6 separate regions of the Homo sapiens genome follow, and regions 1, 2, 3, 4 and 5 are each reported to be linked to region 6. The links are microRNA targets in miRTarBase. Many come from high-throughput screens and were not tested one by one. Region 6 holds a microRNA gene; each other region holds the end of a gene's coding sequence. Distances are between the middles of the regions.
The links. The annotated mature microRNA hsa-miR-216a-3p reads UCACAGUGGUCUCUGGGAUUAU and lies in region 6 at 2,849-2,870, shown strand. An mRNA with a match to its seed (bases 2 to 7 or 8) in the 3' UTR can be bound and repressed. Matches are read on the target gene's strand: a 7mer-m8 pairs with bases 2 to 8, a 7mer-A1 pairs with bases 2 to 7 and ends in A, and an 8mer does both.

Region 1: the mRNA of GDF15 is a reported target of hsa-miR-216a-3p. Seed matches in the 3' UTR shown: 7mer-m8 at 4,220-4,226.
Region 2: miRTarBase lists PROSER3 as a target of hsa-miR-216a-3p. Seed matches in the 3' UTR shown: 7mer-m8 at 2,407-2,413.
Region 3: the mRNA of ITSN2 is a reported target of hsa-miR-216a-3p. Seed matches in the 3' UTR shown: 7mer-A1 at 1,833-1,839.
Region 4: the mRNA of DARS1 is a reported target of hsa-miR-216a-3p. The part of its 3' UTR that is shown has no 7-base or 8-base seed match.
Region 5: the mRNA of TAGLN2 is a reported target of hsa-miR-216a-3p. Seed matches in the 3' UTR shown: 7mer-m8 at 1,091-1,097.

What each region holds. Positions count from the first base shown.
Region 1 is chr19:18,387,818-18,393,177 of GRCh38, reverse strand. It overlaps GDF15 (growth differentiation factor 15), which reads right to left. Exons shown (of 2, transcript NM_004864.4): 2 at 4,002-4,892. The coding sequence ends at 4,243. LRRC25 (leucine rich repeat containing 25) reads left to right here. Exons shown (of 2, transcript NM_145256.3): 2 at 1,053-2,041. The coding sequence ends at 1,191. Among named protein-coding and RNA genes, the nearest start is that of MIR3189, 3.9 kb to the right of the region's middle.
Region 2 is chr19:35,767,098-35,772,457 of GRCh38, forward strand. It overlaps PROSER3 (proline and serine rich 3), which reads left to right. Exons shown (of 11, transcript NM_001367856.1): 9 at 1-968; 10 at 1,058-1,139; 11 at 1,307-4,069. The coding sequence ends at 1,448. Among named protein-coding and RNA genes, the nearest start is that of ARHGAP33, 5.8 kb to the right of the region's middle. RefSeq lists an enhancer at 1-806.
Region 3 is chr2:24,199,505-24,204,864 of GRCh38, reverse strand. It overlaps ITSN2 (intersectin 2), which reads left to right. Exons shown (of 40, transcript NM_006277.3): 39 at 447-620; 40 at 1,082-2,001. The coding sequence ends at 1,239. Among named protein-coding and RNA genes, the nearest start is that of FAM228A, 27 kb to the right of the region's middle.
Region 4 is chr2:135,902,686-135,907,891 of GRCh38, reverse strand. DARS1 (aspartyl-tRNA synthetase 1) reads left to right here. Exons shown (of 16, transcript NM_001349.4): 16 at 485-2,011. The coding sequence ends at 576. Among named protein-coding and RNA genes, the nearest start is that of MCM6, 29 kb to the right of the region's middle.
Region 5 is chr1:159,914,340-159,919,313 of GRCh38, reverse strand. TAGLN2 (transgelin 2) reads left to right here. Exons shown (of 5, transcript NM_003564.3): 4 at 1-40; 5 at 373-1,203. The coding sequence ends at 514. Among named protein-coding and RNA genes, the nearest start is that of TAGLN2, 8.7 kb to the left of the region's middle. RefSeq lists an enhancer at 508-1,397.
Region 6 is chr2:55,986,491-55,991,850 of GRCh38, reverse strand. MIR216A (microRNA 216a) reads left to right here and starts at 2,792; the gene lies at 2,792-2,901. The region is part of intron 2 of MIR217HG (MIR217 host gene); the gene reads left to right. The region is part of intron 3 of LOC105374690 (a long non-coding RNA gene); the gene reads right to left.

The sequences.
Region 1 (5,360 bases), not on the chromosome of region 6:
TATATGAGGGCCACAAAGTCAGTTGCTTCAGTGGTGAAAACATTTCCCATCGGAAGGAGCACAGAGTGTGGGTGCAGCCACTTGTGTGCATGTGACTGACGTGGCCAGAGCTTCCGATTTTTCAAGAGGAAACAAAAATTTAGATTTTAATGTAATAATGAACAGCTACCTCAATTTCTGTTTTTTTTGAGACGGGGTCTCCCTCTGTCATCCAGGCTGCAGTGCAGTGGTGTGATAACGGCTCACTGTAGGCTCGACCTCCTGGGCTCAAGCGGTCCTCCCACCTCAGCCTCCCGAGGAGATGGGACTCCAGGCACACGTCACCACGCCTGAATAATTTTTTAATTTTTTGTAGAGATGGGGTCTCACCCTGTTGCTCAGGATGGTCTCAAACTCCTGGCCTCAAGCAGACCTTCTGCCTTGGCCTCCCAAAGTGCTGGGATTACAGGCATGAGTCACCGCGCCTGGCCGCTATCTCATTTTTAAGGAAGGAAAAAGGGTTCAGGGTCCTCAGACCGCAGCGTTACACCCACAGAACCTTCCCTAAATCACTGCCCTCCCGCAGCCTCCTCAGAGAGAGGTGGGGTTGGCTAGGAGTCAGAACGCTAGCCCGTGCCAGTTTCCCCATATGTAAATATTCGGGGTGGACTGAGCCACTCTGAAGCTTTCTTTTTTTTTTTCCTTCTGAGATAGAGTCTTGCTCTGTCTCCCAGGCTGAAGTGCAATGGCACGATCTCGGCTCACTACAACCTCTACCTCCTGGGTTCAAGTGATTCTCCTGCCTCAGACTCCCGAGTAGCTGGGACTACAGGCCTGTGCCACCATGCCTGGATAATTTTTGTATTTTTAGTAGAGACGAGGTTTCATCATGTTGTCCAGGCTGGTCTTGAACTCATGATCTCAGGTGATCCACCCACCTCAGCCTCCCAAAGTGCTGGATTACAGGCGTGAGTCAGAGCACCTGGCCCACTCTGGACTTTCTCAAAGCTCATGTGCCTGTCCCCTGAGTCCTCCCCCTCCCACACTTACCCCTGGTCTGTCTGTCCCCCCAGGGCTCACCCTTCAGAGGACAATGACTTTTACATCAACTACAAGGACATCGACCTGGCTTCCCAGCCTGTCTACTGTAACCTGCAGTCACTGGGCCAGGCCCCAATGGATGAAGAGGAGTACGTGATCCCCGGGCACTGAGCCTAAGATGTCCTAACCTCCACCCAGAACCCCTTCAGTCCCTGCTGGGTGACTCAGGGCGTCCTAACGCCTCCATGGCCTCAGTTTCCCCATCTGAAGAATGGGTACAGGAAAGGATTGTCCTTGAGGCCCCAGGAAGCTCTGCCGCCCCCTCCCTGTCCCTCATGCCGCTCCTCAGCTCCCTCAGCTCCTAGAGGGGGAAGAGGAGAGACCCCCAACAAGGGGACAGGACGGTCACTGTGCCAATCCTGTCATCACCCTCCTGTGGATGTACAGGCAGTGCTCAATAAATGCTTCGAGGCTGATGAGGCTGCTGGCTCAGGGTGCGTGGGTTCCTCAAGGTGGGGATTTCTGAGTTCTAAGACCAAGTCTCCATCTGAGACTCCCAAATTGCTCCCCACCTCCCATCCCTGTTTTTTTTTGTTGTTGTTGTTTGTTTGTTTGTTTTTGAAACTGAGTGTCACTCTGTCACCCAGGCTGGAGTGCAATGCTGCGGTCTCAGCTCACTGCAACCTCCGCCTCCTGGGTTCAAGTGATTCTCCTGCCTCAGCCTCCTGAGTAGCTGGGATTACAGCACCCGCCACCATGCCGAGCTAATTTTTGTATTTATAATAGAGATGGGGTTTCGCCATGTTGGCCAGGCTGGTCTCGAACTCCTGACCTCAAGCGATCTGCCCGCCTCGGCCTCCTGAAGTGCTGGGATTACAGGCGTGGCCACTGCGCCCAGGCACATTCCTCCCTTCTGCCCCTCTCAGGGCCCCTTCCCAGGTCCCTGATCTCCAGGCTTGGCCTCCAGAGCAGCCCACACCAACCCCAAAATAAAAAAATGTATATATTCCTTTAGCTCTAATATTCTGAGAAAATCTTTCAAGACCCTGGTGCAATGCCACCTCCTTTGAGAAGCTGTCCCTGGTTTCTTCTCAGGCAGAGTTAATGACTCACAGATGTCTGTATTTCAAGAGTTTTTTCAGGCTCATGCCTCAACTGGGTTTCCTATCAGCTGGTCCCAGCCCAATCCTCCAACCTGGGGGAGATAGAACTAGAGACAAGTACCCTCAGTCCTGGGAGATCAAGCCTGGGCCAAAGGGAAGAATGGGAGCACAGTCCCCACATGGAGACAATTGAATGAGTTTGAATAAGGCTGCATGTAAGAGGGGAATCTGCAGTGGGTTTTGAAGGATGCATAGGAGTTTGAGAATTGGAGAGGAAAGGGCATGCTGGCTGGGTGGACCAACTTGTGCAAGAGCCTGGAGAAGCACAGAGAAGGCACAGGCCCAGCCCTATACCTTGCAAAGGCAACAGCTGTTGTTTGGGGAAAGACTCAGTGACACCATCTGCTGCCTTTTGGTATTGAGTTTAATTTTGAAGCCTCCTAGGTGCCCATTTTCAACAGCTTTGCTGTGACTGAAGTGAGCCTGCTCCCATCTCAGGGCCTTTGCACTTGCTGTTTGCATTTACTTGCAATGTCCACCCTCAACTACCCCCTCCCCGACTCCTTTTCTTCCTCCAGGTCTCAGCTCAAATGTGACCTCCCTCCCCAGGGAGGCCTCCCCATCCAACTATCTAGATCACCTCTGCCTCCGTTCACTAATGAACTGATGGGTTGAATCCCCAGCACAAATCTTACTGCAATCAACTACTTTCTTAGGATTTACTCATTTGTCCCCTTCACTCAACCAGGCTCCGCAAAGTGGGGTGGTCCTTGTGTGTCTTTTTACAGCTGTGTCCGGGGCCTGGCATAAAGTGGGCACTCACTGAATACGTTAAGGGGAACCTGCAGTCATTCAGGTTGGCCTGTGGGTGATGGCATTCCCAGCAGATACACCTCACTGCTGGAAGTGGGTACTCTGTCCCTCAAGACACCCATCGCCATTCCTCTCAGAGATTCAGGATGGGCAGGCAGTTTGGTGTGGAGAGGGGGCTGGACTCAGCACACCTCAAAATTCCAACATCCTAAACAGGAAGTATATATAACCTGGGAGATGTGGTGTGCATGAAAATATTCTTCACAACTTATTTGTTTCTCCCTACTCTTTATATGTGAAAGAATGAGGTGTCACTAACATGGAAGTGCCACAAACAGGAGGGGTGATGGGACTAACCCCTCAGGTTGGGGACAGTACCACAAAACAAGGCACTTGGTTGCAGATAGACTTGGCTCTGAGCTGCCTGTGTTTGGAAAGGTGACTCCCAAGTGGGGAGAGCAACAGGATGGTGATAGAGACAAAGACAGAGACAGATCCTCTGCCTCAGACCCCAAAGAGAGAAGTTTTGAGGAATGAGGAAAGATGGAGGGAAGCTGAGACTTAAAAAGGTATGGGGTCTCAGCTGTTTCCAAAACAGAAACACCAGCCTGGGCAACATGGCGAAACTCAGCCTCTACAAAAAATACAAAAGTTAGTTGGGCATGATGGCATGCACTTGTAGTCCCAGCTACTCAGGTGGCTGAGGTGGGAGGATCGATTGAGCCCGGGTGGTTGAGGCTGCAGTGAGCTGTGATTGTGCCACTGCACTTCGGCCTGGGCAACAGAGTGAGACCCCGTCTAAAAAAAATAAAAAGAAAAAAGAAACAGCAATAAGGAGATAGAGAAATAGAGACAGAGAGTCAGGGAGTCAGGAATGGCCAAGGCTGCCCTTAGAGCCCACAGGTGTCGTAAGCACCTTCCAATGGCTTGGCATCTCCGAGAACACCTTGCCACTCATTCCTTGAGCCTTTCCACTTACCCCCTCCCAGGTCTCCTAGAGAAACTGAGGTCAGGGAGAGGAGGATCTTCTCAAGGTCACCTTCCCTTATCCTGGACACCACAGGGAACAGTTCAGACAGCTTTATTTTTATCACCAGAGTTTTAAATAAATACACAGTTCCATCAGACCAGCCCCCGAGTCCCCAAGAAGGTCACCCCAATAAATTAATAATAAATAACAGACTTATATAAATACAGCTGTTTGGGCAGGAATCGGGTGTCTCAGGAACCTTGAGCCCATTCCACAGGGCAGGACAACTGAGGTCGCGTCCTCCGCGCAGGTGCACAGTGGAAGGACCAGGACTGCTCATATGCAGTGGCAGTCTTTGGCTAACAAGTCATCATAGGTCTGGAGCGACACCCCGGTGTCGGTCTTTTGAATGAGCACCATGGGATTGTAGCTGGCGGGCACGCAGCAGGGCGCTGGCACCGTGTCGGGCTTCAGGCGGTGCAGGCTCGTCTTGATCTGCGCGTGCATGTTTGCCGCCCGGAACTGGCTCGGGCACGCGCCGATGCACATGGTCACTTGCACCTCCCGTGGCGACAGCACCCAATCGGCCCAGCCCAGGTCTTCCAGCGACGCGCGGACCGTGTGCAGACGGCAGCAACGCCCGGGCCCGAGCGGACAGTGGTCCCCGTTGCGCGCACGCGCTCTGCGGCGCCCCCTGGCGGCTTGCGGCCGCAAGTGCAACTCCAGCTGGGGCCGTGCGGACGAAGATTCTGCCAGCAGTTGGTCCGACTGCGACGGCGGCGGCGACAGTCGCAGGTGCAGCGCGGGCGCCTGGGGTCTTGCAAGGCTGAGCTGACGCCGCAGCGGTCGTGTCACGTCCCACGACCTTGACGCCGTCGGGGACAGCCGGAACAGAGCCCGGTGAAGGCGGGAGGCCTCGGGGAGCCCCTCGGGAAGGGCGGCCCGAGAGATACGCAGGTGCAGGTGGCCGCCGGATCCCAGCCGCACTGTGGGAAGACAGATAGGGAAGCTGGTCACCCACAGGCCTACCGTTTTCCAGGAACGAGGGTGCCCATTTCCCCTAACACGCCAAGCTGGATCTCACCACGGCGGCGGCGCCTTTGCACAAGTTATTTCCCCTACCAAGAGCATTTCTCCGTGCGGGCGCGGTGGCTCACGCCTGTAATCCCAGCACTTTGGGAGGCCGATGCAGGTGGATCACTTGAGGTCAGGAGTTCAAGACCAGCCTGGCCGATATGTGGCCAATATGGTGAAACGCCCGCTTCTACTAAAAATACCAAAAATTAGCTGGGCATGGTGGCTGGCGCCTGTGATCCCAGCTACTCGGGAGGCTGAGGCAGAAGAATGGCTTGAATCGGGGCGGTGGAGGTTGCAGTGAGCCAAGATCGTGCCACTGCACTCCAGCCTGGGCAACAGAGGAAGACTCCCTCTCAAAAAAAAAAAAAAAAAAAAAA
Region 2 (5,360 bases), not on the chromosome of region 6:
CAGTTCTCTGGGGACCCAGCCTAACCATGTCCCACTGTGGAGCAGTGTGGCCCAGCCTGGTCCACCAGAGGCCTTCTATGTGGAGAGGCCTCCTTTTCCCTCAGTGTCCTCTCCACACATCTTTTGGGCCCCCAGCTCCCACGGGTTCTTCTGGGCCCCACAGTCTGGGCCTTGGGTATCCCTTGGGGCTGTTCCTCCCACGCAGCAGGCCTCCACCCTAGCACATCTGGGCTCTACCCTCGCGCCCCCGGCTTCCCTGGCCTCCACCCTCGAACCCCCGGCCTCCACCCCAGCTCCCCTGGCCTCCACCCTTGCACCCCCAGCCTCCACCCCGGCTCCCCTGGCCTGTACCCCTGCACCTCCAGCCTCCACCCTCGCATCCCCAGCTGTCCCCCAGGGCCTGCCCATCCCTGACCCAAGCAGCTGTGCCCAGCCTAAGAGCCTGGGGCCCAAGTCTCGGAGGAGCAGAGCCCCTCGCCCAGAGGCTGCCGAGCAAGTCCCTGCAGCTGGCCAGGGACCTGGCCCTCAGCTCAGGGGTGTCCTGGGCCAGGTAGTGGCAGCTCGGCTGTTCCCTGACAGCCTGGAGGACACGCCTCCTCACTTCGAGGGCCCCCCTCCACCCAAGGCTGGATCTCCGAAAGTCCAGGCCACACAACCCCAAACCAAGGTCACTCCCCCTCCATCTGAATCCCAGTGTCGGGCCAAGGCCGAGTCTCTGAAAGCCAAGGCCTTGCCGCCCGCAGCGGGGTCAGTGATACGGAAGAGCGAAGCCACTCCTTCCCCTGGAGCCTGCCTGCAGCCCGAGGTCCCACTCTCTCCAGCTGAGCAGGCAACCACAGTCAAGGCCTCGCCGCCAGCCTTCCAGGTGGGGTCTCCGGAGGCCCTGGCCCCGCCCCCGCCCGCTGCTGACCACGCCCCCTCGGAGGCCCTGCTTGCCCAGGCCGCCCTGCTGCTGCAGGCTGCAGAAGGTGATGCCCGCGCCCTCCTGGATGTTGGAGGCAGGCCAGCCCCCTAAGAGGCCGGCCCCTTGGAGCTCATTCTTTTCTCCCCGGCCCAGACTCCGACGGCAGCGAGTTCCAGGACGATCCCGTGCTGCAGGTGCTAAGAGCCCATAGGGCAGAGCTGAGTCGGCAGAAAAGGTGACCGACCCTCCATCCCCAGAGTCTATGACACTGGGCCCCGGAGACCTCTGAGACCCGGTTAGGCATCCAGCCCTCCTCATCCCCTGTCCCAGCAGTCCGTCCACAGCCCCAGATTCTAAGCCTGAGCACATACCCCAGCCTCTGCTCTCCCGGCCTTTCTCCAGGGAAGCGGATGCCCGATTATCGTTCCTGTTGGACCAGGCTGAAGACCTGGGATCTTGGTCCCCTCCAGCCGGGTCGCCCCCTAGGTCCCCAAGGAGGCTGCTAAGAAGGGAAGGAGATTCCCTGGAGGCCAGAAGACTTTGAATTGTACAGATTCTATTTTACCCAGTGAGGCTCTTTTTTTTTTTTTCATACAGTTACTGGTTATCTGTGAGAAAGGGGTTGTTTGGAAAGGCCAAGGGGTCATGCCAATTTAAGGAAATGCCCCCCATCCTCCGCTGCCCCATGGCTCTGCCCTGCCCCCCACCCCTTCCTGACCACGGAAACAAGATCTCCTTTCTGGTTATATCTTCCTTGGGGCAGAGGGAGTTTCAGACAAGACTTCTGGCAAGACTGGGACCCACCTTATCTGGCTTCACTCAGGAGCCCTGGCTCAAATGGACCAAAGGACTGCCCTCCACGGAGGAAGCTACTAGGGTCATCAGAGTGTTGGATGATGGTCAGGCTATAGCCCACACATGCTTGAGCAGCAGCAGCATCTGGTGCAGCTGACCCCTCCCTCCTTGAAGCACTTTCTCTCCCTGCTTCCAGCCCTTCTCTCTGCACCTCTCTGGTCAGGCCTAGTCACTAGCCCAGCATGTCAACTTTGGCATGACCCAGGGCCATGGCGTTGACATCTCTATCTGCACCCACCCATAGGTGCTCTTGTCTAGCTTAATGACTCTAAACCCCGTCTCTATTCTGATAATCCTCAAATTTCTGTCTGTAACCTAGACCTGGCCACGAAACCTTGGGCTCCTACCTCATTACCATTTCTACCCAAGGGTTTAAAAGACATCTCAAATTCCATAGGTCCTAAATGGAGTTTCCAATCTTTCCCCCTAGGCGTGCCTCTCCCCAGCTTCTTTTTTTTTTTTTTTTTGGATGGAGTCTAGCTCTGTCACCCAGGCTGGAGTGCCATAGTGTGATCTCGGCTCACTGCAAGCTTCGCCTCCCGGGTTCACGCCATTCTCCTGCCTCAGCCTCCCGAGTAGCTGGGACTACAGGTGCCCGCCACCACGGTCGGCTAATTTTTTTTGTATTTTTAGTAGAGACGGGGTTTCACTGTGTTAGCCAGGATGGTCTTGGTCTCCTGACCTCGTGATCCACCCGCCTCGGCCTCCCAAAGTGCTGGGATTGCAGGCGTGAGCCACCGTGCTGGGCCCCCCCTCCCCAACTTTCTTCGGCTCTGTCCTTTGCCGCTCAGACCAAAAACCTTAGAGTTGTCTTTGACTTCTGTCTTTCCCTTCCACCCACAGTTAACCAGGAAATCCTGCCATCTCCGCCTTTATTTTATTTTATTTTTTGAGATGGAGTTTCACCCTTGTTGCCCAGGCTGTAGTACAATGGCATGATCTCGGCTCACGGCAACCTCCACCTCCCGGGTTCAAGCGATTCTCCTGCCTCAGCCTTCTGAGTAGCTGGGATTACAGGCACCTGCCACCACGCCCAGCTAATTTTCTTTGTTTGTTTGTTTGTTTTGAGACAGAGTCTTGCTCTGTCCCCCAGGCTGGAGGGCAGTGGCACGATCTCGGCTCACTGCAACCTCTGCCTTGCAGGTTCAAGCTATTCTTCTGCCTCAGCCTCCCTAGTAGCTGGGACTACAGGCGTGTGCCACCACGCCTGGCTAATTTTTGTATTTTTAGTAGAGACGGGGTTTCACCATATTGGCCAGGCTGGTCTCAAACTCATGACCTCGTGATCCTCCTGCCTCAGCCTCCCAAAGCGCTGGGATTACAGGCATGAGCCATCATGCCTGGCAATTTTTTGTATTTTTAGTAGAGACGAGGTTTCACCATGTTGGCCAGGCTGGTCTCGAACTCCTAACCTCAGGTGTCCCACCCACCTCAGCCTCCCAAAGTGCTAGGATTACAGATGTGAGCCACCGCACCTGGCCTCCACCTTTAAAATCTATCCAGAATTCAACTGCTTCTCCCCTTCTACTGCTCACACCTCAATCTAGGCTGTCATCACCTCCTCTCTGGACTGTTGGAAAACTTAACGGTTTTTATAAACCTGATATTCTTTGACACACTTGCCATCAAGAGGCAGAGTCTATGTCCCTTCATCTTGAAACTGGGCCCCTCAACAAATAAAATGCAGAGGAAGTGATGCAGCTTAACTTCTAAAGTGCAGTTAGAAAAGATGATTTCTCAGCTGGGCATGGTGGCTCACGCCTGTAATCCCAGCACTTTGGGAGGCTCAGGTGGGCAGATTACTTGAGGTCAGGGGTTCAAGACCAGCCTGGCCAACATGGTGAAATGTCTCTACTAAAAATACAAAAATTGGCCAGGCATTGGTGGTGGGTGCCTGTAATCCCAGCTACTCAGGAGGCTGAGGCAAGAGAATTGCTTGAACTCAGAAGGCAGAGGTTGCAGTGGAAAAAAAAAAAAAGATAATTTCTCTCTCTTTCTCTCTCTCTCTGACACTTGCTTTAGAGGCTACATTAAAAAAAAAAACTAGTTGCCATGCTGGGGAGGGGTTTGGGTTACACAGGTGTATGCACTTATGAAACTTAGTGAAGTGTGTGAATTTCATTGTATGTAAAGTTTACCTCAAAAGAAAATATTGAACGCCAGTTAAAGATACGCCTGTAATCTGACTTCTTTGGGAGGCCAAGGCGGGAGGATCACTTGAGGCCAGGAGTTTGAGACTACCCTGGGCAACACAGCAAGACCTGTCTCTACAAAAATAAATAAGTAAATAAATAGCCAGATGTGGTGGCACACGATTTGCAGTCCCATTACTAGGGGCGGGGAGGGGCGCTGAGGCAGGAGGTTTACTTGAGCCCAGGAGTTCAAGGCTGTATTGTAGTGAACTAAGATCATGCCACTGCACTCCAGCCTGGGCTACAGAGCTAGACCCTGTCTTTAAAAAAAAGAAAAGAAAAAAAAAAGTATGTACACTGAAATATTTAGGGAACAATAAACCAATGTCGACAATTTATTTTGAAATGCATCCAGAGATGAGTTGGATTGATGGATAAATAGTGTAATAGGTAGATGTGAGATAAAGCAAATACAGCAAAGTGTTCATGGTAGGATCTAAGTGGCGGATATGCGGGTGTCCACTGTAAAATTTTTCAACTTTGCTGTAATTTAGAAACTTTTCATGGCCGGGCGCGGTGACTCATGCCTGTAATCCCAGCACTTTGGGAGGCCAAGGCGGGCGGATCACGAGGTCAGGAGATCGAGACCATCCTGGCTAACACGGTGAAACCCCGTCTCTACTAAAAATACAAAAAATTAGCCGGGCGTGGTGGCGGGCGCCTGTAGCCCCAGCTACTCGGAAGGCTGAGGCAGGAGAATCACTTGAACCTGGGAGGCAGAGCTTGCAGTGAGCCGAGATTGCGCCACTGCACTCCAGCCTGGGTGACAGAGCGAGACTCCGTCTCAGAAAAGAAACTTTTCATAATAAAATGATGGAGAATATATGATTGGGGTTGTTTTGATATCTGCATTTACAAAATGGAGGGATAAGATGGATTTCTAGTAACTTCTGTATGTCACATGGTAAATATAATATTTGTTTTCAACCTTTCTTTCTTTCTTTTTTTTTTTTTTTTTTTTTGAGATGGAGTCTTGCTCTGTCACCCAGGCTGGAGTGTAGTGGTGCAACCTCGGCTCACTGTAACCTCTGCCTTCCAGGTTCAAGTGATTCTCCTTCCTCAGCTTTCCGAGTAGTTGAGATTATAGGTGCATGCCACCTCACCTGGCTAATTTGTGTGTGTGTGTGTGTTTTTAGTAGAGACAGGGTTTCACCATGTTGGTCTGGCTGGTCTCGAACTCCTGACCTCATGATCCACCTGCCCCGGCCTCCCAAAGTGCTGGGATTACAGGTGTGAGGCACCGCACCCGGCCTGTTTCTAACCTTTCTAAGCAAACCATACATTTAAATGAAATCAGAGTGGGCACAGTGGCACAGGCCTGTAATCTCAGCACTTTGGGAGGCCAAGGCGAGCAGATCACTTGAGGTCACGAGTTAGAGACCAGCCTGGGCAATATAGTGAAACTCTGT
Region 3 (5,360 bases), 32 Mb from region 6:
CACTGCGCCCAGCCACTGATGACTCTTCTGAACACTGAATAAAGGAATGCTTTCTAACAGTGTGTCCAGTGCCACTAAAATGCGCATATTGGACCAATATTCTTATCACTGTTTTCCCAGTAAGTGCCAGTGCCCGCCTTCCCGAGTGTGTCTGCGCCGAGGAAGCATGCAGCAGGTTGCAGTGACACTCACCCAGGATTGTTCCGTGCGGAGTGGTCCTGGCGGTGGAGCTCTCGGCCACTCCCCAGTTAATGCTGCTGTCAGCACTGGGAACTTGGAGACCCTGTTACTAGACCACAGGGATATGGTGCCCCAGGCAGCGGCTCCTGCTGCCATGGTCTCGAGTGACCCATTATTGGAATCCTGCTTCTGCTCAGGGAGGGCACTGTCAGTCGCTTCGTTTTACCTGCATGCACCACATGTGTCTGTGGTTTGTTTTTGTTCAGGAAAGAGCAACCCATACTGTGAAATCAGCATGGGCTCCCAGAGCTACACCACCAGGACCATCCAGGACACACTCAATCCCAAGTGGAATTTTAACTGCCAGTTCTTTATTAAGGATCTCTACCAAGACGTGCTGTGTCTCACCCTGTTTGACAGAGACCAGTTTTCACCAGATGGTAAGTGTCGCTCAGCCAGGGGATCTAAAGGCTTTCCCAGTTTCCTAGATCCTGGAGTCCAGATCTAGGGGCTTCAGCTGTGTGCAGACCCCATGCCACTTCAGGGAAGTGACACAGGCCTGTGTCATCTCGCTTTGGCAGCAGGTGGGTGGCCTTCCTCAGGGGAGGAGGTGGCCTGAGATGTGTTTCAGGTCTTTGACCCATCACTCCCTACACACACGACGTGAACACCACTCCTGGAGCATTCTCAGAATGGAGATTTGAATTCCATGTGGCAGCTTCTCACACACAAACCTGCCATCATTCCCCACACACCCACTCACGACATTCAACAGCCATGAGCCAAAAGAAGTTCCTTGTTTCAGATTTGAAGGTTTTATGAATCCACTTCTTCCGGATGTAGCTCTTTAATGATTTTATAAAGAAGAAAGACTTCTGACTCTCCTGTGTTTATTCACCAGATTTCCTGGGTCGTACTGAAATTCCAGTGGCAAAAATTCGAACAGAACAGGAAAGCAAAGGCCCTATGACCCGCCGACTGCTGCTGCATGAGGTCCCCACCGGGGAGGTCTGGGTCCGTTTTGACCTGCAGCTTTTTGAGCAAAAAACTCTCCTGTAGGGGTTCTAAAGGACAGCACCAGCGGGACAGCCCACAAGGCTGGGGCTGGAGAATGAGAGACTGCGCTCTCTTGGGGCTGAGGGAGCACCATGCAGCTTCACCCCTCACAAAGCCATGCACGCTGGGGGCTCTGTTTTCCTGCACACTAAATAGCTAGCAATCTATGCAAACACCTTTCCCATAAAGAAACCAAACCCCATAGTACAGTGCCTTGTCCTAGTGTTCACATGTTCAGCTCTGTTTGTTTAGATGCCAAGGTTTCCATTTTCAGGGCTATAAAAAGTATTACTTGGAAATGAGGCATCAGACCACCAGATGTTACCGCTCGGTTGAATGTGTCCACCGTGGAGTGGTTTGGTGACGCTGTAACCATTCCACGCCAGTGACCTCTGCTGGGTCACAGCCACTCAGGAGGGGAAGGGTCAGGATGAGAGGCTGCAGCCTCGACACTTGGCGCGGCCTGATACTGAAATAGCGTCTACTCGTGCACTGAATAAAAACAGAAACTTGATCATTTTATTCCTGATTAGATTTTATCACTCTCTGCTAAGACAATATAGTCTGGAGTATAAGTGGGAAAGCTTGATTTAAATACTGTGAACTCTAATAATGTGGAAAATATTTTTCAACTTTAATTTTCTGAAGTATAAATTATTTATGTAAATTCATTGTTTTTGCATATTTCTTAGGACATGCATCTTTAAGCTTTATCATTGCCCATATGTACAGAAAGAGAATAAAGACATATGTTTATGGATGGAACTTCGTCAAAGTCTGACTGATTTACTTTCTATATGAAAGCTGCTTTTTTTCTTTTTAATTTTCTCAGCCAGATGAAAGGCTCTTAAAAGGTACCTTCACAAGTTGCCTATAATGAAACCAAGTTTCCTTCCTGGTACGTGGGAAAACCAAGGACAGAGTGAGGATGAGGTCAGGAGACCCAGGGCCTCATCTTGACTCTGCCACTAATTTGCTCTGTGACTTTGGTGAATCTACCTCGTGTTTCTGGGGCTGGGTTTCTTTAATGGGTGAAATGGATGATCTCTGTGGGAGCTACTGACCCTCCTTCAGCTTGCCTCATCGAGTGATAACCTGAGGGTAACTTACAGCAAAGAAATGCACACAGGTCTTACACACTAAACCCAGTAAAAACTGGGAAAAGATCTGCCCCCCCCCTTTTTTTTTTTTTTTTTTTTTTTTTGAGACAGTGTCTCACTCTGTCGCCTAGGCTGGAGTGCAGTGGTTTGATCTCAGCTCACTGCAACCTCTGCCTCCTGGGTTCAAGCAATTCTCCTGCCTCAGCCTCCTGAGTAGCTGGGACTACAGGCGCCCACCACCATACCCAGCTAATTTTTGTATTTTTAGTAGAGACGGGGTTTCACCATGTTGGCCAGGCTGGTCTCAAACTCCTGACCTCAAGTGATCCGCCTGCCTGAGCCTCCCAAAGTGCTGGGATTACAGGCATGAGCCACTGTGCCCGGCCAGATAAGTCCTTTTGAAGGAATCATTTGAATTGCTAGGGCCCTGATTTCTAAGGGAGCAGGTCTCCAGGCAACTAGAGGAACAAGGAAGGATTCAAATGTCCCAAGGGCTTGGGCCTCCACCCTAGCCCCCGCTTCTGTTTAAACATAATTGCTGGGCAAAGGACTGGGAAACAGAACCGGCACATTCAGATTTAAAAATCCATCACTCACTCAGGTATAGATCCTGGGCACTGATTGGTTAAAATATAGACATAAAAAAGGTAAGAGATGTCACTGGATATATGAAACCTAAACAACTGAACATATTGCTTGCTTGTGGGAAAGTGGGTAGTCAGGCCCAGTCTCACGGAGCAGAGTGAACTGCTGGCTGTCTCTAGGGTTGGGGCTTGTTGGTCACAAGGCCAGCCTGGCTGATGTCAGCAGCAAGGCTGCCCTGATGACTCAAAACCAGCTCTAGGCTTACTGGGAACGAGAGCTACGGAACCGTCCTGTGTTCCCAGGGCTGCGGGGACCGTAATCCTCACTGTGGCGAGTGCCATTTCTCCACTGCTAGATACGACAGGACTTTTTGGTCAGATTTAGGGCAGAGGAGCATCAGGACCAGAGTCAGACAACCTCTATGAAACCACGGACCACACGGAGCATCGGCGCACCCGGCCACTCCAGCTGTCCCCTTACGCCTAGGAACGCACACCTGCCCCTTTAGAAATCAAATGTAAGCCTGACTTTTGGGAGGATGTGGGGTGTGCCTGAGTCTCCATACCCCGAGTCTCTATCCCGAGTCTCCATACCCCGAGTCTCCATACCTGAGTCTCCGTACCCCAAGACTCCATACCCCCGAGTCTGTACCGCCTGAGTCTCTGTACCGCCTGAGTCTATGTACCTCCACCCCAGCAGGACCTGGCATATGTGCCTCATGCGCCCAGACATCTCCCCTCTGCTGAGAACCCCCCTCAGCAGGTCCCTCCAGTGCTCTTCAGGAACAGGTGCCATGGCCGGGGAGGGGCACTCCGCTCTCTTAAAAGGCAACCCAAATTGTGAGCAATTTGATGACCAAGTCTGAGTGCATGTGAGGAGGGGATAAATGTGTTGTGTGGCACCTGAGGGACTGGCCTGAGAGAACACTGCCACCTCTGAGCTAGGGGACTGCCACCTCTGAGCAGCTCACCAAGCCTCAGAGCATTGTGTGTTGGGAGAGGATAATACTATCTTACTGCGAAAACTTTTCAGTGAACAAAGTACCTCACAGGGTTCCTGGTTCACAACAGGAGCTCAATAAATAAGAACTCCTGTGATTTGGGTATTTCTTGCAATTTATTTCCACTTCTGGAGGAAGAAAATATGTTTAGAGTATTTTAACTGCTGTACAGACACTGCCAAGTCAAGTCCACGAAGCTTCAGTACCAAGGGTGGCCCTGCCTGGCCACCTTCTGCAGGGAGGCCAGGTGCTGCCCCAGCACCTCAGCTGTCATCACTCTTTTTCCCACAGGCTGGGGACCCCTGTGCTGTTGGCTGTCCCCAGCAGCCCAGGAACGGGGTCTCTGCTGTCTGGTTCCTAAAACCTAGTGACAGAAGAGAAGGACTAAGTGTGGTGCAGGGATGCGGGGCTTACAGGTGCAGCGAGGACCCCCGCTGACTCTGCCCCACACTCAGCCCTCCTGCTGGAGCTAAGACTCCCGTTTCAGGCAGGTTTCCAGCCGGCCCTCTTGCTTTACCTCTCTCTCTCTCACTCTGTCTGGTTCCTGCCAACTCTCAGACAAGGCTGTCTGTATCTTTGAACTCCACAAATAACTAATCTTTTTGTGGTATGTACAGCAGAGATGACCAGCTGTCCACAAAATGCTCTCCTGCCATTGTAGGCAGACCAGCCATGGAATACTTTTCCCCATGCTCCTTCACCCTACAGTTAGGAACAGACATGGAACTGGGTCCAGCCCAGGGAACATCAGAGGAAATGACATGCCGCCTCCAGCCCGGCCCACATACACCTGACTCCCAGGAAGAACTCATCCACGATCTCTTCCCTTTTCAGGTTGATAGGAATGAGTTCCCAGTGCAACCTCGGAAGCCAGGTGCTGAAGATGACACAGGCCCATGAGATAGGATCCGAAAGACCGCACCGAGAGGGACAGCCTGCTGACCCACTGGGACAGTGCCAGGACATAAGCAAAACTTAACTGCTACTGCATTTAAACCTCAGTCCACTTGGGTCTACTAGTGTAGCCCACCCAACCATTAAGGGTAGAACTGACCACAGTCACATTAAGATCTGATATAAACAAGTGGGACTATATCAAACTAAAAAGCTTCTGCACAGCGAACAAAAAGGCAACCTACAGAAAGGGAGAAAATATTTCCAAACCATGTATCAAATAAAAGGTTAATATCCAAAATATATAAGGAACTCATTCACCTCAATAGCAAAAAAGTGAGTAACCCAATTTAAAAATGAGGACAGAGCCTGAACAGAGATTTTTCCAAAGCCTCCTTCCTGCCTCCCTAGAAATGTACAGATGGTCAACAGGTATATAAAAAGGTGCTCAACGTCACTAATCATCAAGGAAATGCAAATCAAAACCACAATGAGATGTCACCTCACACCTGTTAGGTTGGCTATTATGAAAAAGTCGAAAGATA
Region 4 (5,206 bases), 80 Mb from region 6:
ATAATAATGTACTCCAGAGCTTTTTATCGTAGGGTCCACCATGTTAAATGTCTATAAAATTAACAGTAAATTTTCTCATACTTCTATTATTGCTTAAGCAAGTTTATGGCTCTCATCCTCATTGCCTGGACTGTATAATCAGAGTGTGGTATCATTTGAAACGTTCAAGCTTATAAAGTCTTTTGTTTTGTTTTTCTTATTGTTACATCATAGATTTTGTTCATTCGTATAGATTTTTGTGGTTCACATTTTAGACTCCATACCACTCAAGGATATATTACTTAGTCCTTTTCATTTATAGCAGCATCTTTATTTCTGAATCAATACTCAAAACAGTTTTAAATAAACCCAAAATAATAAGAGTCATTTTCTTTCCTAACAAGGAAAAGTATTTAGTTTAACGATTACATTTATGTTTGTAGTTCTAAGTAAGACCCTGAGAGATTTTCAAAAAGGAATTAATGATTATTTTTGTCTTCCCCAGGATTGGAACGAGTTACTATGCTGTTTCTGGGATTGCATAATGTTCGTCAGACCTCCATGTTCCCTCGTGATCCCAAACGACTCACTCCTTAAATTCACACTTTGCCACTTAACTCCAGTGTGGATGACAGAGCGAGACCCTGCCTCAAAAAAAAAAAAAAAAAAAGAAAGCCACACTTATTCTTTTCAGTAACCTGCTAGTGCACAGGCTGTACTTTAGGTACTTAAAATATGCACTAGAATAAATTTGCAAGGCCCTAAAATATCACTGTTATTTTTGGAGTAATTCAGTATAGGTTCGTTTAAAAGAGATTTTTATAACTTCAGACATGCATCAGTAGGAAATAACTTGAGAAATTCATATGGTTATGTTACAAATTCATATTCTGTTACTACAGTAAACGTTAAGAGTTTTAAACAGTTAAGATTGTACAATTTTTCTTCTTTTCTATATTACAAGGGCCCCAGTGTTAATGTCTTAGATTTTCAGTATTTGAACTTATTTTTTTAAATTCTGTCATTGAGATAAGAATAATTCAGGTAGCATCTGAAATTTTAATGAATGTATAATTGGCATATCATGGAAAATTAACCAGAAAGTATCAGTTCTTAAAAGTTATGCCTAGAAATTATGTAAAGCTAAACTACTGGTTAGAAAGTATTCAGTGTAATATTGTATTAATTTGTTAAATTCTAAACTTGAATTTCAATAAAATTTTAAAGCTAATTGTAGTTTTTGTGTAACTTTGTGGCCAACTGATTTTGTAAGTGGTGCTAGGCATTCATAATTTGGTAAAAGAAAAAATACACAACTAGTTTATATAAATAAAGACTAATATGTTGTCAACATGTATTCATTTCAGGATATTAGTTTAGATGGGCGTAGGGATAGAGCTCTTAAAGTTGACAGCTTGGGTCGGTTGACAGAGTTCATTTCACATGGGTTAAAATATATTGCAGAATTTTGTTTGATTTTTAACTGGAATGGTACTGATACTTAGTGAATGTCAGTAAAATCCAGTCCCATCTTATCCGTCAAAAAGAAATTTTTGTGTAAGAATTAGTTAGAAACACTTTCCCTCTAGATTATTACAAATGTTGATGCTAATGTTAATTTTACATGACCACAAATATTGGGGAGGAACAAAACATAACATATTTTTGTACAGGAAGAAAAAATTACATGCAGAAAAATATGAGGGTCAAAAAGTTAGGAAGTTACCCCTGGACCACGAACATCTGCCCATTATGTTTGAAAGTTAAAGGGGGTGTTTACCATCTATATTGTACAGTCTTTGAAAGTTTAGATTCAGTTCTTATTTTTTTCTTTCATATCCTACCAGAATACCTTAAATATAGAAGGCACCCCAAAAGTATTTCATAATTTAATCCACAGCAAGAATAAAATATCCATCTTCTATAGTGTGTAATTGCTAGACCCTAAAATAGTACAATAATATTGGCCCTAGAGCTGTTCTTAATTTCATGTAATTATAGCTTGTTTCAAAATAAAGTTTGTAAAGTCTTAGAATGATGTAATCTTTTTTATTGTGAAGGTTTTCAAACATGCTGACCAAATTAGAACATGATAAAATACACTTGTACCTATTATCCAGTCTTATCAAATCTTTATCATATTTGCTTCAAATATTTTTTTTTATTTTTATGTATTTGTTTTGAGACCAGGTTATGAGACTGGCTAATTTTTGTATTTTGGTAGAGGTAAGATTTCTCCATGTTGCCCAGTCTGGTCTTGAACTTCTGGCCTCAAGCGATCCACCTGCCTTCACCTCCTAAAGTGCTGGGATTACAGGTGTGAGCCGCTGCACCTGACCTCTTATTTATTTATTTTTTTGAGACAAGTCTTGCTCTGTGGCCTAGGCTGGAGTGCAGTGGCATGATCTCAGCTCACTGCAACCTCCACCTCCCCGGTTCAAGCGATTCTCCTCAGCCTCCCAAGTAGGTGGGATTACAGGCTCCCACCACCATGCCCAGCCAATTTTTGTATTTTTAGTAGAGACGGGATTTCTCCATGTTGGCCAGGCTGATCTCAAACTCCTGACCTCAGGGGTGATCCGCCTGCCTGGGCATCCCAAAGTGCTGGGATTACAGGTGTGAGCCACTGTGCCTGGCCCTTACTTTATTTTTTAAAGAGAAAAGAAATCAAAAAAAAAAGAAATTGTGGGCAGTTAAGGTACCCTCTTATAGGAAACTATTATATGAATTCAAACTTTTATTCTTTTGTTTTTATATTTTCACTAAATATTTATGTTTCTATAAATGTCTAATATTGTTTTGCAGATTTATTTGATATGTAAATCCTGAGATTTTCATTGGAACTACCTTAAATTTATAGAATAATTTGAAAAGACTTGGAATTTCCCTCTCTTTAGTCTTCCAGTGGATGAACATGGTATATCTCTTCATTTATTGATTTTTTTAATTGTAGTAAAACATTTTTATTTTATACTTTAAAAGTGTTTTGCTTTTTGTGTGATGTTATTATTTATCCTATCAGCATTTTATTCTCAAGATTATCAAAGAATTTAGTACTGTTAATGCTGGAAGCAAATATCTTTCCATTTTAGCTCTATATCCTTGTGCTTTGCAGATCTGAAGATATTTCAGCTGAGTCAGAACAGCCTTGCCAAGGATCTGCTAATCATGTGATGAAGGGAGAAACTGGTGAGGTAGCTTAGTGTTTTTTTGTGGGCAGGATTTAATGAGTACTCTTGAAAACAAAATATTCAGTGTAACAAAATTTGAAAGATCTCACCCTGTTGCCCAGGCTGGAGTGCAGGGGCAGGATCTCAACTCACTGTATCCTCCACCTCCTGGGCTCAAGCAGTCTACCTCAGCCTCCTAAGGTAGCTGGGACTGCAGGCGCACACCACCACACCCAGCTAACTTTTGTATGTTTAGTAAAGACATGTAGTAGTTGTCATGTTGCCCAGGCTGGTCTTGAACTCCTGGGCTCAAGCAATCCACCTGCCTTGGCCCCCTAGAGTGCTGGGATTACAGGCATGAGCCACCACGCCCAGCTTGTGTATTTTTTCGGCTTCAGCCCGGAAATAAATGTTTCCCATGAATTCAATCATAATATAGACAGTACTTTGTTCACTGTAGTTTTACTTAACATTAGCATATTAAAACTGCTTTTAATTTTCCAGTTTATGTTAGAACACCTTACAGTGTTTTGTTTTGTTTTTTCTATTGGGAATGAAACCATGCCCCAAGGAGTTAAAAAAAAAAAAAAAGTTGAGTAACAAATTCTTGGGTGTGGAGGATAAACAGATAAGAAAAAACAACTTACTAACACTCCCCTCCCTTATAACAAAACTGTCTAAAATCAGTTAAAAGCAATATTGCTAACTAGAGTTTACACAGCAAGCTTGCTAATGTTACAGCCTAAAGTTTCACCACATATTTTATACTAACTACCTCCAAATTGGCACATGGGACCCATAAAGAGGTAACTACACATGCCGAAGAACTTTCCAGACCTCTTCCACCAATCACCTACTAATCCCAGAATCCGCCCCCTGAAGGATAAAATCACTGCCTTAACACCAGCACAGAGAGAGCAATTTGAGCTGCACTCCTGTCTCCTTGTAAGTCACTTGAAATAGAAAGCTTTTCTCAAAAACCCAGTGTCATTTTATTGGCTTAGAGCATTGGGCAGTGAGCCCCTTCTGCTTGGTAGCAGGATTGGGATCTTTTCCGTGACATTTTTAAATTGTTACAAGGGTAAAGAACACTATCAGTTATCAATTTTTTTTTCTTAGATGGCTAATTTTTTTGTATTTTTAGTAGAGACAGGGTTTCACCGTGTTAGCCAGGATGGTCTCGATCTCCTGACCTCGTGATCCGCCCGCCTCGGCCTCCCAAAGTGCTGGGATTACAGACGTGAGCCACCGCGCCTGGCCTCAGTTATCAATTTTTATATGTTGCCATTTTATGCAGCAGTATTCTTGATCTCTTACTCTTTCTAATAGTTTGTATTGAATATCTTGTATTTTCAAGGTAGATGGAGAGGTGTGAGAAGGGATAGCATAACAGTAAAAAGTATGGATTCTGTTAGCCACACTGCCTGGGTTCAGATTCTGGTTTTGCTCTTACATTAATGTATAACCTTGGATAACTTGCTTATCCTCAGCTTTCCTCATTTGCATAATCCTACATCATGAGACTATTATGGGAATTAAAAAGTGTAGAACACAGAATAGTGTGGGGCAAAATAAGAGTTTAGTCTTCCTGTCTCATTCTTATATTTGCCGATTGCATTAGATTAGTTCTTCAGTAGAGTGTTGAATAAAAGCAGTGATGGAGGCATGCTTGTATTGTTTTTATTTAAATACTAAAGTCTTGAGATTAAGTGTGATAATTTCTGTAGGTGGTTTTTGTTTTCGTTGTGTGTTTTTTTTTTTGTTTTGTTTTGTTTTTGAGACAGGGCCTTGCTCTCTTACCCAGGCTAGAGTGCAGTGGTGCAATCTCAGCTCACTGCAGTCTCGACCACCCAGGCTCAAGCAATCCTCCCACCTCAGCCTCCCAAGTAACTGGGACTACACGTGCATGTCACCACACCCAGCTAATTTTTTGTATTTTTTTGTAGAGACAAAAAAATGTATGTTGCTCAGTCTGGTCTCGAATTCCTGGACTCAAGAGATCCACCTGCCTCAGCCTCCCAAAATGCTGGGATATACAGGCATGAATCACTTCGCCT
Region 5 (4,974 bases), not on the chromosome of region 6:
ATGATGGGCTCTTCTCTGGGGATCCCAACTGGTTCCCTAAGTAAGTATTGCTGGGACAGCCGCAGGGTCCAGCAGGTGCATTGTTTCTGCCCAATCCTGTCCCTAGGAAATAACTTATCTCAGTAGCAGCTGGCCCTTTACAAAGCACTTTCAGAAAATTCCTCATCTCACTTAATCCTCACAACACCCTCTGGGATGGCAAATGACTGTCCCTTTGGACAGATGAGGAGGTGGCTTCAGAGAGCTTATGGCTCTCGAGGGCAGAGCTGGCACCAGCCCTTGAGCCAACAGCAAAGCCTGTGCTCTGTCCAAGGAAGGGATTTACTAGGGCAGCCTGTGATCTCCTCTAACCACCACTCCCTTGTCACCCAGGAAATCCAAGGAGAATCCTCGGAACTTCTCGGATAACCAGCTGCAAGAGGGCAAGAACGTGATCGGGTTACAGATGGGCACCAACCGCGGGGCGTCTCAGGCAGGCATGACTGGCTACGGGATGCCACGCCAGATCCTCTGATCCCACCCCAGGCCTTGCCCCTGCCCTCCCACGAATGGTTAATATATATGTAGATATATATTTTAGCAGTGACATTCCCAGAGAGCCCCAGAGCTCTCAAGCTCCTTTCTGTCAGGGTGGGGGGTTCAGCCTGTCCTGTCACCTCTGAGGTGCCTGCTGGCATCCTCTCCCCCATGCTTACTAATACATTCCCTTCCCCATAGCCATCAAAACTGGACCAACTGGCCTCTTCCTTTCCCCTGGGACCAAAATTTAGGGGCCTCAGTCCCTCACCGCCATGCCCTGGCCTATTCTGTCTCTCCTTCTTCCCCCTGGCCTGTTCTGTCTCTGAGCTCTGTGTCCTCCGTTCATTCCATGGCTGGGAGTCACTGATGCTGCCTCTGCCTTCTGATGCTGGACTGGCCTTGCTTCTACAAGTATGCTTCTCCCACAGCTGTGGCTGCAGGAACTTAATTTATAGGGAGGAGCCTGTGGCAGCTGCTGCCCCAGCCACAGCTGCACTGACTGTGCTCACCACACATCTGGGGCAGCCTTCCCTGGCAGGGGCCCTCGTGGCTTCTCATTTTCCATTCCCTTCACTGTGGCTAAGGGGTGGGGTGAGGGGATGGAGAGGGAGGGCTGCCTACCATGGTCTGGGGCTTGAGGAAGATGAGTTTGTTGATTTAAATAAAGAATTTGTCATTTTTGAATGGACTCTGGCTGTGTCTGGGGCCACTGTGCCACTGTGGGGAAGGGAGGAATACTGGGCAAAGTGCAGTGAGTGATACAGGAAGGAGGGCAGAGATGAGAGGTTGCAGTGCTAACCCCTGTCTTGAGTTTCCTCCCCATCCTCATTCTCACTTGCTTTGGGGGGTGGTGTAGGTTGGAATTGAGAGGGGACAGGACCTCACAGCTGAATGCAGACTATGTAGGCAGTGTCCACAGGGAAGTAAGGCCCTTTCTAGTCAATGGAATTGGCTAATCCTGCCTGCTGCCTTTGGCTGGGTCTGCCTCTACAGTTGGAACAGCTTCTCAGTCACTGAGAGGGTGGGGCTGGCTGCTGGCACAGCCATCAGTCCTGGCAAGTGAAGCTGTCTCCAGGTGAGAGGTCCCTCAGGCGGGCTTGGGGTGAGGTGGTCTGTGTTGGAGTGGTGAGGGTGGGGGTTGCAGTGGTGAGGAAACGTGGAGAGCTGGGGAATGAGCAGGAGTGAGTTGGTGGTGGTCGCTGGAGGGAAGAAGCCGTGTTGATTGATCCTAAGCACCTGTGAACTAAGTGCCTGGGAGAGACTAAAACTTCCTTTCTAGGGTGTGGCCTTGGGCCATGATCATCAATTTTGGGTCAGGTTGTCTCTAGCACCTATCCTTGACCGAGGCATGAGTGTTCCACCCACAGTTTCTTTTTTTTTCTTTTCTTTTTTTTTTTGAGACAGAGTCTTGCTTTGTCACCCAGGCTGTAGTGCAGTAGCATGATCGCTCTTGTTCTCCAGGCTGGAGTGCAGTGGCATGATCTCGGCTCACTGCGACCTCCGCCTCCCAGGTTCAAGCGATTCTCCTGCCTCAGCCTCCTGAGTAGCTGGGATTACAGGCATGTGCCACCACGCCTGGCTAATTTTTTTGTATTTTTAGTAGAGACGGGGTTTTTCCACGTTGGTCAGGCTGGTCTTGAACTCCCGACCTCAGGTGATCTGCCAGCCTCGGCCTCCCAAAGTGCTGGGATTACAGATGTGAGCCACCGTGCCTGGCTATTTTTTGTATTTTTTATAGAGATGGGGTTTCACCATGTTGGCCAGCCTGGTCTCGAACCCCTGAGCTCAAGCGATCTGCCTGACCTCATGGCTCTGCCTTTTCTTGCCATCTCCCAACTCCCCAGCCTCAGCCTCCCAAAGTGCTGGGAGCCCCACCCATAGTTTCTAACCACTAGGTGTTACCTTTACCCCAAGGCTTCCCAGTCAGACTCTGTGTCTCCCCAGGGGGAATTTGAGGGACGCTGGGCCAGTCTGACATTAAGTTCCAGCCCCATCAGCCTCACCCAGAGGCCTGGCCTTCCTTGCCCCTTTCCCCTTTTCTACCTGAGGGTATCTCTGTCTCCTAGGAGGAGAAAGCCACAACACTGTGCCTGAGGGAAACAGGTTTGTATCCAGAGCTTTTGTTCTCTCCCCTTTTGTTCCCCTGCTTCTCTGAGGCTCCCTCTTCCAAAAAGCACCCACTAGGGGCGAGGCCCAATGCCAATTCTTCATAGCCATGGCTGTCAGCCTCATCCCCACACCACGCTTAGCCTTGCCACACCACACCTCGGGAGAGACTGTATTTGCTTGCTTGCTGCACTCCCACAGGCTGTGGCACAGATAAGATAGGCTGCAGCCTATGGGCAAATTCCCAGGGGATTAGATCCTTTATCTCTCATTCAGGAAGGCTTTGTGGAATGCTAGTCAGGGAGAGTGATGTCATTGCAGAGAAAACATTGAATTCGCTATGTATACTAAAACAACAAGCCGTTTGCCACCTTCCCTGGTTTAACTATTTATAGCTATAAATTATTGGCCACACGCCTCACAACTCTGAGAAATGCCATTTGTTACAGTGCCAGCGCTGAGAACCACTGCCTTCTCCCAGAAGATTCTCACAAACGCCCAGGAGGTGGATATTACTGTAATGTGTTCCCCATTTTGTCTTTAGATGAGGATACTGGTCTCAGAAGGGCCAAGGAATGTGCCCAGGGCCACAAAGCAATTAAGGGAGAAGCAGGGATTTGCATCCAATCAAGCTGGCTCTGAACCTGGCTGAGCCTGTGCAGCTCTAGGCTCAGCAAGAAGTGAAGCTGTCAAGGGACTAGGGGACAGAGGTGGTGGTGGGTGGCAGGGCAATGCTCCTCATCTGTAAGCTGAAGATGATAATTCCTTCCTCGTGAAGTTGCCGTGAGGATTAGATGAACCCTGGAAAGCACTTTGCATGGGGAATGCTAGCACATAGTGCTCAGGAAATGGAAGTGTGGGGAATAAAAGGTGGAACATTTGTGTATGGACCCTGGGCTGAGAGGGAGCTGATGCCCAGCAGTTTCATGCCCTTCACCACTGTCCTGTTGAACACGGGCCAAGATGCTTTCAGTGGCCCTATCCCCTTTACCTGGAACAGCTTATTTTCAAGGGAGACACCAGCTGTATTTGAGAGGGGCTCAGCCATTGGGCTCACCTTCTTCTGGCTGCACCCACCACCACCCAAGCCTTGTGAGGAATCTCAATGTTCCCTTAATTCATCTAACTGCAGACTCAGCTGCTTCCTTCTGGAGCCGGCCTCCAGTGGCATCTCAACATTTTCCAGCTTTCTGTTTGTCTGCTTTCTAGCATTTTGTCTCACCTGAGGTTACAATTTCATCCTTAACTTGGCTTCTCTCATCTCTGACCCCACTTCAGGCCCTGGGGCCCAGACTAGGCACCAGCCTGTGTATGGTTCTGCCTTTTCTTGCCATCTCCCAACACCTTATTCTGTGTGGCTGTCTACAGTGGTGTCTCTCTCTCTTTCTTACATTTTTCTTTATTATTATTATTATTAATTATTATACTTTAAGTTCTAGGGTACATGTGCATAACGTGCAGGTTTGTTACATAGGTATACATGGGCCATGTTAGTTTGCTGCACCTATCAGCTCGTCATTTACATTAGGCATTTCTCCTAACGCTATCTCTCCCCCAGCCTCCCACCTCCACAACAGGCCCCGGTATGTGATGTTTCCCTCCCTGTGTCCATGTGTTCTCATTGTTCAACTCTTTCTTTCTTTCTTTCTTTTTTTTTTTTTTTAACTTTAAGCTCTGGGATACAGGTGCTGGACATGCAGGTTTGTTGCATAGGTATACGTGTGCCCTGGTGGTTTGCTCCACCTATCAACCCATCACCTAGGTTTTAAGCCCCGCATACATTAACTGTTTGTCCTGATGCTCACCCTCCCCTCGCCACACCCCTTCCCCGACCACAGACCCTGGTATGTCTTGTTCCCCTCTCTGTCTACGTGTTCTCATTGTTCAACGCGCTACAGAGGTGTCTCCTAACACTCTGCACTTGCAGGGCTTCTCCTGCCGCCTGGAACAATCTCCTTCCAGGTGCTGCCCTCACTTGCTCCTTTATCTCCTTCAGGTTTTTGTTTAGACGTCATCTTCCCTGATCACCTCATTTAAAACTGCACACTTCACCCTCAGCCTGGACCCCGTGCTCCATTCCTGCTTTCTTTTATCACCACCTGACACCCAATATATTTTACTTATTTATTTTCTGTCCCCACCCATAGAATGTAAACTACACAAAGGCAGGCTTTTGTTGGTTTTGCTCATGTAGAGTAGTGGTTGGCATGTTGTAGGTGCTGGATAAATATTTGTTGAATGAATGAGTGAGCATGACACCACCCTCATGCTCCTCAGCCCCCTGGCTTGGCAACACAGTGCCCAGCCAGCCCAAGGGCCTAGCAACCCAGCCTTTCATCATATCTGAGA
Region 6 (5,360 bases):
AACTCAGAAGCCCTTCAACTTAGAGATTGAGACATCTCTTGACCTATATACTAACTACCCTAGTACATTGGTAATAAACCAGTAATTCAAGCAAGATACAGAAATGGATATGAAAAAATTCTAGGAAGGAGGAAAATAACAAAAAAGACACAAGCATAAAAAATGAGTGGGATTTGGATAACATTTGTAAACTCTAGAGGTGGAAGATTTGTAAAACTAACAGAAAAAGTAATTGAGTTAACCAAAGGACATAGGAGTAAAATTAAAACAAAATAAAATTAGCATTTATGGAGAATCTGTGTATCAGATTCTGTACTAGTTAGACATTTTCACAAACACCACATTTAGTTCTTAATCTCATGCACAAGTATTACCAACACAGAAACTGAGGCTCCAAGAAATAAAACAATTTGCCTTAAAGCCCACAGGTAGTTAAGTATTAGAACCAGGAGTCACACCAAGGTCCACTTCACTCCAAAGCTCATGTGCTTCCCGACACCCCACACACCATTCCACAGCCAAGATAGCTGCAGGAAGGGGTAGTCCTCCAGGTTTTCAGAAGATATCCAAATAATTACAGCTTTGAATAAATAACACTAGTCTTCAGGGAAATAGGAAAATTGCCACCATCTGAACAGACCCAATGACCAAACTGAAATTTATTACTCTCAAATACAAATCTATAGAGAGTCTCTAACAGAACTAAGATCACAAATGCATACATTGCGGTGCACCCAAAATATGCATATAGAGACATCTTAGATAATATCCTCAGAATACTTGAACAGAATGTATAGATAGTGTTAGAAACAGCTTACTCCTTGATACTTTGCTACTGTATTTCAGTTTATCTGGCCTGTGGACTATCTATCCACATTAATATAGCTTTGTTGCCAAAACAACTTTGTATCAGTTTCTTCCTTTTTCTTTTTTAAATGCCCATCACAGCAACCCACTAAGGTAGGCAAGGCAGAAACGTATATGTCTTTGCTTCCATTGAGAGCCCACCTCCCTGTGCAGTTGTGGACATGACAACTTAAGATTAATAAAAAGCTGTCTCATCTTCCACATCAGCATATGATGTTCCCATTTATGATCTTTTCTTAATGTTTTCTAGCAGAGGGAAGAAGAACTACATACTCCTGTCACTTCTCTATGGTAACTTTTCACTATTAAACTTTCTAGAGAGAAAGGAAAATCAAATATAAGATTAAGAGAAAAGAAAAAACTGAACGTCATTCATGTTGCTCTGAGAAGCCCTTGTTTTTTGATTAAGATAAAATCTGCTTATTTTTAATCCTGAGCAATTTGACTCCAGAAAATAAACTTAGAACAATATTTAAAAAGTTAAATCCTAATGATGAGACATTCTTATTTTACAAAAGTAGCTTTGTACTTAGGAGTCCATATGAGGCACAAGATTATATTCAATTGTTCTTTCTCAATTGTTTTGTAACTTTATATTTACCTGACTTTTAAAACGAAAAGCCACTTTTCTAACTCTGTAAATTACCACTCTCTTAATTGTGTCAAGTCTCAATTATTAAAGGACAAGTTATGAGCTGAAATCCATAATTCTTTGCTTCAACAAACATTTGATTTAGTTTGACAAAATTTTTTTGAGCACTTATTAAACATCAGATGCTAAACTGAGAATAGTATAGTTGAGGATATAGAGATGAATAAGCACAGTGCCAACACTTGGAAGTTTGCAGTCAATGAAGGAGAAAGCATGTGAGTGAGAAAACACCATTGTGTATTACAGGTGCCAAAAAAGGGAGACTGGGGAGAGAAGGCAGTGTGTGATAGTTTTCAATGTGTGACTGTCACACAAGGGGGTGTGTGTGTGTGTGTGTGTGTGTGTGTGTGTGAAAGAGAGAGAGAGGAGGGAGAGAGAAAGAAGAAATAATTCCAAGTATGGGCAAACACAGCTCATTGGATTCTCAGAACTTGTTAGAGCTGGAGTCTACAATGTAGAGGAAGAAATGGTCTAGTATGAAGTGAAGCTGGAGAAAGGCAGTGGAAAATCTCCACCGAAGTGCAAATCGCAGCCACCAAAACCAGACCTACTGAATCAAAATATAGAGGTAGGTCCTGGGGATCTACATTTGTAACAAGTTTCCTATGTGCTTCTTACACTCACTCAAGTTGAGATGCCATCCACGGCAGATGGTGGGGAAACTCTGAGGGCGTTTCCTCTTCCTTCCGTTCTTAATCATTATTCTTACCATTGATTAGCCCCACCCAGTGGACTGAGGGGCTTAGATCATGGCTCAGTCTCACTTAGCCATGACAGTGATGTGGGCAAGAGGGGAGGACATACCACCATCTATGAAAGGTAATAGCCACCGCTATTGACACATCTGGCCATTTGGTGAGTATACGGTCATTACTTTTTCAACGTAATTGCTGGTTTTCTTGTCTGAGGACAAATTTTAGAGTGTTTGGCTTTGATGTTTCCAAGTTCTCTATAAAGCTTGTTTAAAAAATCATTTTTAGTGATTGGTTTTACATTCACCTGTACTCCTACTTGGCTGTTTCTTACTATATATGGATTAGAGTAAATCCTTTCTAAATGCAAAGATTATACTTTTATGACATTACATGCAATATAGCATATGCCAGAAATCTGTGAATTCAGCAAGAGGAGTAGCTTGATAATGTCGCCTCAAGAAAAATGCAGAGGGGTACATCAGGGCTTCTGCTGGTGCACTCGATGTATGAAGATGTGCTTCCACCTGAGGCAGCCACGTGCCTCTGCTCATACACTTTCTCTTGCAGGTCTAACACGGATGGCTGTGAGTTGGCTTAATCTCAGCTGGCAACTGTGAGATGTTCATACAATCCCTCACAGTGGTCTCTGGGATTATGCTAAACAGAGCAATTTCCTAGCCCTCACGAATCAAAAGACTTGCATGGCAACCAAAATTAAACACCAAATTTCTATTTCATGACCAAGACGGGGGGAAAAGTTTCGATGGTTACTGTTTCATGCTCAACCTCTTTTAATCTTAGTAAAGTCTTTTTCTAAAGTGCTGTTGTGCTGGAAAGGAAACCAGCCTTGGGAATTAATTTGCCTTTATTGGATTCGCTTGCTACTTACTGCGCTCCTTCAGTGCTACTTGGTTTTTTAAAAAATTGCAGCCAAGGGAGTTTGGGTGTTAGAAGCTGAACCCAAAATATTTTCCCTCTGAAAGCTCCTCCCACTCTCTTTGTGGGTGCTACTCCATCAAATTCCAAACAGTCTAAAAGAGGACGATCTCCTGCCAGGCCCTCCTCAAACTTCAACTCCCCAGATTATCACATTTAATCGCCCTTCCTCATTCCTTCTGTAAGTGTTTCACATTCATCTGCCCTAAATAATATTGAAATTTAGAATCAACTATGGCTTAGGCTGAGGTTGCCATGAAACTTTTGAGCTGTACCCAACTCTAATTCTCGGTGATCCCTGGAAACAGATAATCCTTTTCCATAAAAAGAATAAGAACAAATGTAATTCTTCAGGGTGAAAAATCAAGGCCAGTTATCTTCCTCATTCACCCAGTAACACAAAACAAATCAGATGAACCAAATTTATAATTAAATGTGGGATAACTTTAACAACAAAAATTATTAAAATGCTATTTCCAAGGTCTTGACTGGCACATATCCCCTCAGGTATCCTCAGAAAGAGAAGTCTGTATATCTCAGTTTGATTAAATTACATTTCTGGGCCGGGCGCAGTGGCTTACGCCTGTAATCCCAGCACTTTGGGAGGCTGAGGCAGGCGGATCATGAGGTCAGGGGATCGAGACCATCGTGGCTAACACGGTGAAACCCTGTCTCTACTAAAAATACAAAAAATTAGCTGGGCATGGTGGCGGGCACCTGTAGTCCCAGCTACTCAGGAGGCTAAGGCAGGAGAATGGAGTGAACTCAGGAGGCGGAGGTTGCAGTGAGCCAAGATTGCGCCACTGCACTCCAACCTGGGCGACAGAGCGAGACTCTGTCTCAAAAAAAAAAAAAAAAAAAATTACATTTCTGTATCAAGGCACATTAGTATGACCTATTAGATTTCCTTGCCAGAAATTGATGTTGAGCAGTAGGAGGTAAGTTTGAGAACTAGTTATTCACATACTAATAGCACAAATACTGAACCATAAGCCAGGAAATAACTTACCTCTGGTAAGGAGAGGGCTTCGTATTAATTTTCAGGACTCATTAAGGGCTCTTTTAAGCTGCTGCTGAAACTTTCTAAATGTTGTCTGTATCCTCCTGCTAGTTGAAATAATCATTTTTTCAAACATGAAAAAATTCCCAATTCCAATTTTTGGTGACCATTTTTCAAAAAGGGAAGAAGATAAATGTAATTAAACAGAGCAGGAAATATTTTTTGAAGAGCTGAGTACATATGATGCATCAGGAACCATGCTTGTTGCCTTGCTTGTGTGTACACTCAGTGCACTCTTGCAGTCTCCAGATGTTCCCAGTGCTCTCTGCACATAGAGGCACAGGGAGCTTTTGAAAATGTCAATATCAAGGGCTGTGCCACTGATAAATCAGAATGCCTGGGATGGGATCTGGGCATCTCTGTTTAAGAGGCACCCAGGGGATTGTAATGTGCAGCCAAAGGTGAGAATCACTGTATTTGAGCTCAACAGGGAAGCTGTGGTTGGAGTGCAGTGAGAAAAACTGGAAGGAGAGGATTAGAGGGTATAGCTAGGTAGACTATGGTAAGAATTTGGGGTTTTAGTGTGAGGGACTCCACAAGCAATTGGAGAGTTTTAATTAAAGAAGTGGCATGACTTATTTACCAGTAACACAGTTTAATAGACTTTTCTTAGAATCTAACCATGTATAAACTTTAAAGAAAAATAGTTATTGTGGACTGCAAATAACTTCCTTGTCATTTAACTTTAGGAATGTAAGACCACAGGATAGGCAGATTCCAACCAAGAGGAAAGCTAGTATGAAAGAACAAAAAGGAAATTAGCTCAGAAATCAGGAGCCCCAACTCCTTTAGGCAACAGCTTGAGTCACTGTTTCAAGAAAAAAAGAAAATCACTTATCCTTTCAACACATAGATTCTGACTTTTCTTTTAAAGCTTAATAATTTTAGAATTACATCCTGGTAGTAATTAGCATCAAAATAAGTGAAGGATTTGGCATCTCTGTCAATGAGACATTCAAAATATCATTTGTTAGACTGGGTTTATGCCAGTCTTCAGTAAAAATAGAGTACAACAGGATTCCCACCCTTTTAGTAAAGAGGCTCTGTCTTGCTGATGACCGAAGACCTTGTTAGGGCTCCTGGGAACTAAGTCCTCAGCATTCCTAGCTCATCATCTCATTCACCAGCACCTAGAGCGTGGCACTTATTA